2 linked regions of the Homo sapiens genome follow. The gene in region 1 interacts genetically with each later gene. Each region holds a gene or a part of one and is shown in the gene's direction. Other genes may lie near its edges.

The links.
Region 2: changes in CEP152 (region 1) and ACTR10 together harm fitness more than expected from each alone (negative genetic interaction), as found in Homo sapiens cells (one large-scale study listed by BioGRID).

The regions. Positions count from the first base shown.
Region 1 is NC_000015.10:48,751,814-48,755,638, reverse strand, and holds part of CEP152 (centrosomal protein of 152 kDa), read left to right. Parts: intron 1-3,169; coding exon 3,170-3,290; intron 3,291-3,825. UniProt on the Homo sapiens protein: Necessary for centrosome duplication; the function also seems to involve CEP63, CDK5RAP2 and WDR62 through a stepwise assembled complex at the centrosome that recruits CDK2 required for centriole duplication.
Region 2 is NC_000014.9:58,220,367-58,224,191, forward strand, and holds part of ACTR10 (actin-related protein 10), read left to right. Parts: intron 1-3,234; coding exon of another isoform or gene 3,235-3,255; coding exon 3,256-3,335; intron 3,336-3,416; coding exon 3,417-3,490; intron 3,491-3,825. UniProt on the Homo sapiens protein: Part of the dynactin complex that activates the molecular motor dynein for ultra-processive transport along microtubules.

The DNA.
Region 1 (3,825 bases):
CCTAATGCATGCGGGGCCTAAAACCTAGATGACAGGTTGATAGGTGCAGCAAACCACCATGGCACATGTATACCTATGTAGTAAACCTTCACGTTCAGCACATGTATCCCAGAACTTAAAATAAAATAAAGAATATATGCTGTTCTTTCTAAGGGCCTGAGATTTCAGAAACTGAAAATTTTTTTTTCAAAATTCTGTTTTCTGGGCCTGACCACTTCATGAAATATGCATAATAAGAGTTTCTTAAAAGCTTGTAAAGAGTTTGGAAGCCTATTTATTGCCCTCAATAAATTTATGTCTCATTTAGGCAAAAAAATGCCAACCAAGTACAAAGGTATTGATATAGAAACAAGCAAATAAATACGACTCACTCGCATAAAACTCTGAAGCCCAGTTTCTGGATGTACTATATATGTGCATATAGAATTAATTATATTCTTTTAGTTATATAAGTACTCTCTGAGACCAGCTTTTAATTTGTATGAAAGTTTCAGTAAAACCAAATTCTTGCTACCTTATGATCAAAGCAATTAGGTATGCATGAAAGATCCAGAATGATATTCTGAGCATGGTGATTAGCCAATTTCAACATTTGGGATTAGAGGCAGGAAAAAAAAAAAAGCCAGTATTATAAGGTTTGTCTAATAGAGTTGAGACTTAAGAGTGAAGTTCCATCAAAATATTGTGATTAAGGAGTTTCAAGGCCAGGATTGAGCATTTGGTATTAATACCTACTTGGGAGAGTTATAAACTAGAAAAAATAACCTTGAGTTTCAGTTCCATATTCGATGATAACTAGATTATTATATTGGGCAATCACATAGTTGCTCACTGGAAAAATAAAATACAAATCCCCGGCCTAATTCCTTGGGTTTGGGTAGGATATGCATGGCACAGCTTAGCCTTTCTGGGTCCTGCATTTGAAACAGTATAGAATTTTAGAGCCAGAAGGGACCTGAAAGATCAGCTCACTCCATCCTACTTCACCCCAGTTGATATTTTTATCCTTGACCTCACAAAGATGTTGCTACCGAGTAGTTGCCTTCAATGTAAAATTTACTGGGCAAGATCACTTCCCATGAATACTGCTTCACACTTAATTGAGATTTTTTGGAGAAAATAATTAAAATAACTTGGAGAAAACATATAATTAAAAAATTATAGCAGATTTGGAGATGAGAAATGATGGGAAAATCATGTTTACATGCTTTCGTTTGTAAGCATGTTTCGATTTTTATAACAGTTATAAAATCTGTTATAAAAATCAAGAAACTATGACACCTTTCTCCTACCATTAATATATACATATAAAATCAACCCTGGAGTCTTTTTACAGGGCTTATAATTGTGCAAGCAGTATAAGATCATCTGTGTGACTTAATGAGGCTCATAAGTCTATGGAGACAGAATCACATAATCTGGCTAAGAATTTAGATGTTTACGGCTTTTGTTGGGTGGGTCAGATTCCATTCCTGAGAAAAGGATGGCTTTGAAATGCCTAATCTGGAATTTGTCATAGAAGTAATACTTGACCTTCTGCCATTTTCGAGCTATCTTCACTCAGGACCTTGAGGTAAAGCTATGATTATAGAGCAGTGATTTTAAATTTGTTACATAGGTGCTGTAAATGTGAGGAACTATAATTTATAATTTATTAACTCTCTAGTTTTAAAAATTGTTCATGGAAATTAAAACAAAAGATGGTTTATTAATATATAAAAACAAGTCCTCATTAAAATAACTGAGACAATCAAAAGTTTTTTTAAATGGAGAGGATGCAATGAATGAAAAATATAGCTTTCAAGAAAATGAATGCCATATCAAAATATATTAATACAGTAGTTCATAACAGATAAAACAAATATCAAATGGAACAAAATTTTCAAGCAAACTTAAGGATGTATGTTGTCTCTTTTACCATCAAAGTCAAGTTAAAACTGAGACAAAAAGGTTGTTGCTTTTCTCCCTTTTCTGTTATCTTGACTTTTCTTCCCCAGTTTTGAGTAAAAACTGGAAGCACTGACTGCATTTTGGTTCAGCTTTTCCTACTCCTTTTGACCTCAAACCCATAGCTTCTTGATTGCCTCTTCTCTATAATTGCTAACCTCTGCTTCTGTTGGACATTGTAAGTAGGTTTTCTGACAGTCAATTAAGTGGTTTCTCATAATCAAAATCAAGGCTTCTAGAATCAGGCATATATAGTATGTTTTAAATAATCAGTAAGACTACTTTCTCCATACCACCTATTCTGTTCCTTTCCGATTTAGTAGTCATCTTAAATCTGAAAACATTACCATAAAAATCCATTGATTTGGCTGAGCGTGGTGGCTCACACCTGTAATCCCAGTACTTTGGGAGGCCAAAGCAGGCGGATCACGAGGGTTGAGGCAGGAGAATCGCTTGAACTGGGAGGTGGAGGTTGCAGTGAGCTGAGATCGCGCCAATGCCCTTCAGCCTGGCCGATAGAGGAGGACTCCATCTCAAAACAAAAACCAAAAATGAAAAATCCATTGATTTAGTAGCTGTATTGCTGTGACAAGGACTGGAACATAAAAACGTTCAATAAATATTAGTGAAGAAATGGTCTTGTGCAAGATGTTTAATTTAGCTAAGCCTCAGTTTCTGTCCTTAACTTTGGCATTCAGCTGGCCTTCCTTACAAAATTACTGTGTATGTTAAAGTATTTAGAAGCATATGAAGTACTATATAAATTTAAAATGATTTTTAACTGTTATTTTCAATTCATAGGAGGCAGAGGGTTAGCATTATACTTGCTAATTAACTTGTTCCTTGCTGTAGTAAAAATGTTCTAGATTTTCAAGAACAATTCTGATTTTATATTGTCTTTCATGTGGTTTAATCACGTAAACCATTGAAAAATCTCAAATTCACATATATAATGTGCAAACCATATCTTCTGTCTGTCTCATAGCTGCCCACCAGTCGCCTGTCAGACAGTGTTCTTATTTGGAAAGTTTCATAGGAAGCTAGTTCCTAGTACAGTGACAGTACTTATATAACACCCTAAGAAAAATATTGGCGATAGATAGTTCAGGCAAGATTTTTTTCAGGTAGTGTTTTCTCTTTGTATTTTTAATATTAGCATTTTAAATATAAAATTGTATAAAGATTTTTACTAAGCATTAACTTTGAAGATACTTTATTTCAGAGAAATATGGCCGAGCTCTCTAAGGATTCTGCCAGCCAGGGCACTGGCCAAGGAGACCCTGGACCTGCTGCTGGACACCATGCTCAGCCCTTGGCCTTACAAGCAACAGAAGCAGAAGCTGGTAATTGGATTTTGTTCCCACCAGTCTTTGTAGCATCCATAATCACCCATCTGAAGGGTTGCTTTGAGGATAAAAGGAGATCATAGATGTGAACAAATGGGTAATAATCGTCTGACTTAATGTCCCCTCTTCCTAGATTTCATTTTGTATTTAGATAAGAGGGTTAATTTAGGCCCTCTTCTTCTATTTATGGTTTTCCCTTCATTCACAACTGATTCTTGTTACAAGGAGAATCATGAGAGTTTTAATGGAGAAGTCATGTTTTTATTCCCTGAAATCAAGGGTTTCACATCAGAGAATTGCCAAGTAATACAGACTTTTTCATTCAAATTACTGAAACTAATTTCAATCACTTTTTAATGGAAATCTTTCTGAAATGTATTAGATGTTTTCTAATTGATTTGTGAGTTTTTCTGAGGGCCTGGGCAGTGTTTTTAATCTCTTCCTTTCCAACGTATGGCAGAGTGATGAATTAATAGTTTAACTTTTCCTTAATGACTTAGACTCTTCATCATGACAAAAGAATTCTTATACT
Region 2 (3,825 bases), on another chromosome or scaffold:
TATTTGTCCAGTGTCACACAAGTAGGTAGGGTTAGAGCTCAGGCTACAAAATAGATCTTGCTTTCCATTATATTACCTATTATTTTTTATGTGTTTTAATTACCTAAATTCTTTTCAATTGTTATAAAATTTCAATCATTTGTAATGCTTATTACAGTAGTTCAAATAATACAGAAATATCTCAGGTAAAATGGTTTCCTTTCCTCTCTTCCATTTCTATCCTCCGTGATATAACAGTTGTTGACCATGTGGAGTGTTTTCTTTTCATATGACCTCCAACCTGTGAAAAGATGTGTAACTCTTCCATTAGTCAGGGAGACATCAGATTGGCAAAAATTTGAAAGACATCTGGTATTAGTGAGATTGTAGGAAAATGGATGTTTATTGTTAGTAGTAAGGATTGCAAACTAACCTTTTTGGAAAGCAATCTGGCATATTTATGAAAATTCAAAGTGTTGTATCCCATCTAAAAAGTGTTATTGCATGAAGTTTGCTAACTTCATTATAAGGAATGTTATGTAGCTGTTAAGAGCTAGAGTATTGTTTTGGAAGAAGGTCCATAATGTTAAGGAAGAAAGCATGTTGTTGAAGGTATGTTCAGTAGAAACCCTTTCTGTTAAAAACAAATATGCAGGGGCTGGGCACGGTGGGTCATGACTGTAATCCCAGCACTTTGGGAGGCCGAGGTGGGCGGATCACGAGGTCAAAAGATCGAGACCATTCTGGCCAACATGGTGAAACCCCGTCTCTACTAAAAAGTACAAAAATTAGCTGGGCGTGGTGGCACTCGCCTGTAGTCCCAGCTACTCAGGAGGCTGAGGCAGGAGAATTGCTTGAACCTGGGAGGCGGAGGTTGCATTGAGCCAAGATCGCGCCACTGCACTCCAGCCTGGCAACAGAGCGAGACTCTGTCTAAAAAAAAAAAAAAAAAAAAAAATATATGCAGGCTGGGTGTAGTGGCTGGCCCCTGTAATCCCAGCACTTTGGGAGGCCAAGGCAGGTGAATCACTAGAGCCCAGGAGTTCAAGACCAGCCTGGACAACGTGATGAACCCTGTCTCTACAAAAAATACAAAAATTAACCAGGTGTGGTGGTACAGACCTATAGTCCCAGCTATTTAGAGGGGCTGAGGTGGGAGGATCACTTGAGCCTGGGATCTCCTGGTGGAGGCTGCAGTGAGGCAAGTTCAGACCACTGCACTCTAGCTTGGGTGACAGAGCAAAACTGTCTCAAAAGAAAACAAAAACAAAAACTAATATGCAGCATACACATATTCATTGTATTGTGTGATCTTGAACTGGGATGCAGAGGTTGCAGTGAGCCAAGATCACGCCATTGGACTCCAGCGTGGATGACAGAGTGAAACTCTGTCTCAAAAAAATAAAAATAAAACTACAAAAAATTAACCAGGCATGGTGGTGCACACCTGTAGTCCCAGCTACTTGGGAGGCTGAGGTAGGAGGATCACTTGAACCCCAGAGGCGGAGGTTGCAGTGGGCTAAGATTGCGCCACTGCACTCCAGCCTGGGCAAGTCAGTCTCGACTCCATCTCAAAAACAAAAAAAAGATCTCAAGGCTAGGTATTTACTTTGCTTAGATAGTCACGAGAACTTGAATAAAATATAAAACATATAAGTAGCTTTAGTGCCTAGCTCACTGTCTAGCATAGTAGCATATTGTGGATTCTCAACACATGTGTTTTGAATTTGTGAATGAAATTCACTACATAATGTATTATGAAAAGAATTGTGTATAATATATATCATATCAATATGCATTATATATATTATACACAATTCTTTTCATAATATATGGCTAACATGCTTTACAAGTAATACAACCAAGTTGTCAGATTTCTTGCATTTAACATCAATTTTGTCTCTACTTTAAAAAAGGTATTCCTTAACTACCTTGAAATAATTTTAAGCAGCTTATTGTAAAAAATACTTTGCAATAGAATTTTTAAAAGAAAAAGTTTTCAAAATGCAAAAAGTAAAGTGATATAGTAGAAAGAAAGTGGTAGTGTTGGGGTGTGCTAATGAGGAACAATCATTACAAAAAGCCCAAAATTAAGGAATGTTAAATTGCAACTAAGAGCAAAATTTGGCATTGTACCAGCCAGGCGCAGTGGCCCATGCCTGTAATCCCAGCACTTTGGGAGGCCAAGGCAGGTGGATCACTTGAGGTCAGGAGTTCGAGACCAGCCTGACCAATATGGCGAAACCCTGTCTCTACTAAAAATACAAAAATTAGCTGGGCATGGTGGCGTGTGCCTGTAATCCCAGCTACTTGGGTGGCTGAGGTATGAGAATCGCATGAACTCAGGAGGCGGAGGTTGCATTGTGCCGAGATCACGCCACTGCACTCCAGTCTGGGCAATAGAGTGAGACTCTGTCAGAAAAAAAAAAAAAAAAAAAAAAATTGGCGTTGTGTTCTGACCAACCAACATTTTTATTAATTTTATTTCTTTTTTTTTCCAATTTCTTTTTGGTAACATCTTTTCACAACAAGTTTCCTTAAAAAGAATCAGACAGAGAGAGGGAGAAAGAAAATCTGGTTTAAAGAAATATGCTATTCAGTTAGAATAGCTACATTTTTATGATGGTAAAATTAATTTTTATTGTGGTCCTCCTTATACAAGAGATATCAAACAACAGTTTCCTCAAAGGTGATTTTTTTTAAATGAGGTTTTATACAAGATGAATGTACAACATGTTTTATGACACCTTAGTCAATGAAAAAGGTTGTTTTTTTGTTTTGTTTTGTTCTGGTTTGTTTTTTTTCTTTGAGATGGAGTTTCACTTTTGTTGCCCAGGCTGGAGTGCAGTGGCGCGATCTCGGCTCACTGCAACCTCCACCTCCCGGGTTCAAGCAATTCTCCTGCCTCCTCCTCCGGAGCAGCTGGGATTACAGGCACCCGCCACCACGCCCGGCTAATTTTTTGTATTTTTAGTAGAGATGGGGTGTCGCCCTGTTGGGCAGGCTGGTCTCGAACTCCTGACCTCAGGTGATCCGCCTGCCTCGGCCTCCCAAAGTGCTGGGATTACAGGCAAGAGCCACTGCACCTGGCCAAAACAGGTTTTTTAATGAACAAATTATTGTTAGCTAACTAAAGATGGGAATAGAGTTTATAAAATCCAAAGGAATAGATGATGAGCATGTTCACTTGAATAGAATTGTTTTAACTGGGGTGTAGGTACACTCTGTTCAATTATAATAACTAGCCATAATAAGGTCTCCTTTTCTTCCTTAAAGCGCGTACTTGCTTTGTAAGTGATCTGAAGCGAGGACTAAAAATCCAAGCAGCAAAATTTAATATTGATGGGAATAATGAGGTAAGTTTAAAAAAAAAAAAGGCATCTTTTTGCAAAGGTTACAACATGTGTGGACTTATGTTTATGATATTTATATTTCAGCGTCCCTCCCCACCCCCAAATGTTGACTATCCATTAGATGGAGAGAAGATTTTACATATCCTTGGATCAATCAGGTTAGATCTTAAATTTTTACGGCAAAGTAGTAAACTAAAATAAACTTTTGGCTTTTAAAAATATTTGTATGAGCCTTTATTTCACTATTGCCATTTTAACAGTTCAGTGTTTATTGTTAAGCCTCATTATTCATGATTAATTTTATTCAGCTTTTTTTTTTTGAGACAAGGTCTTGCTGTGTTGCCCAGGCTGGAGTGCAGTGGCACGATCTCGGCTCACTGTAACCTTCATCTCCTAGGTCCAAGCAATTCTCCTGCCTCAGCCTCCCAAGTAGCTGGGATTACAGGTGCCTGCCACCATGCCTGGCTAATTTTTGTATTTTTTAGTAGAGACA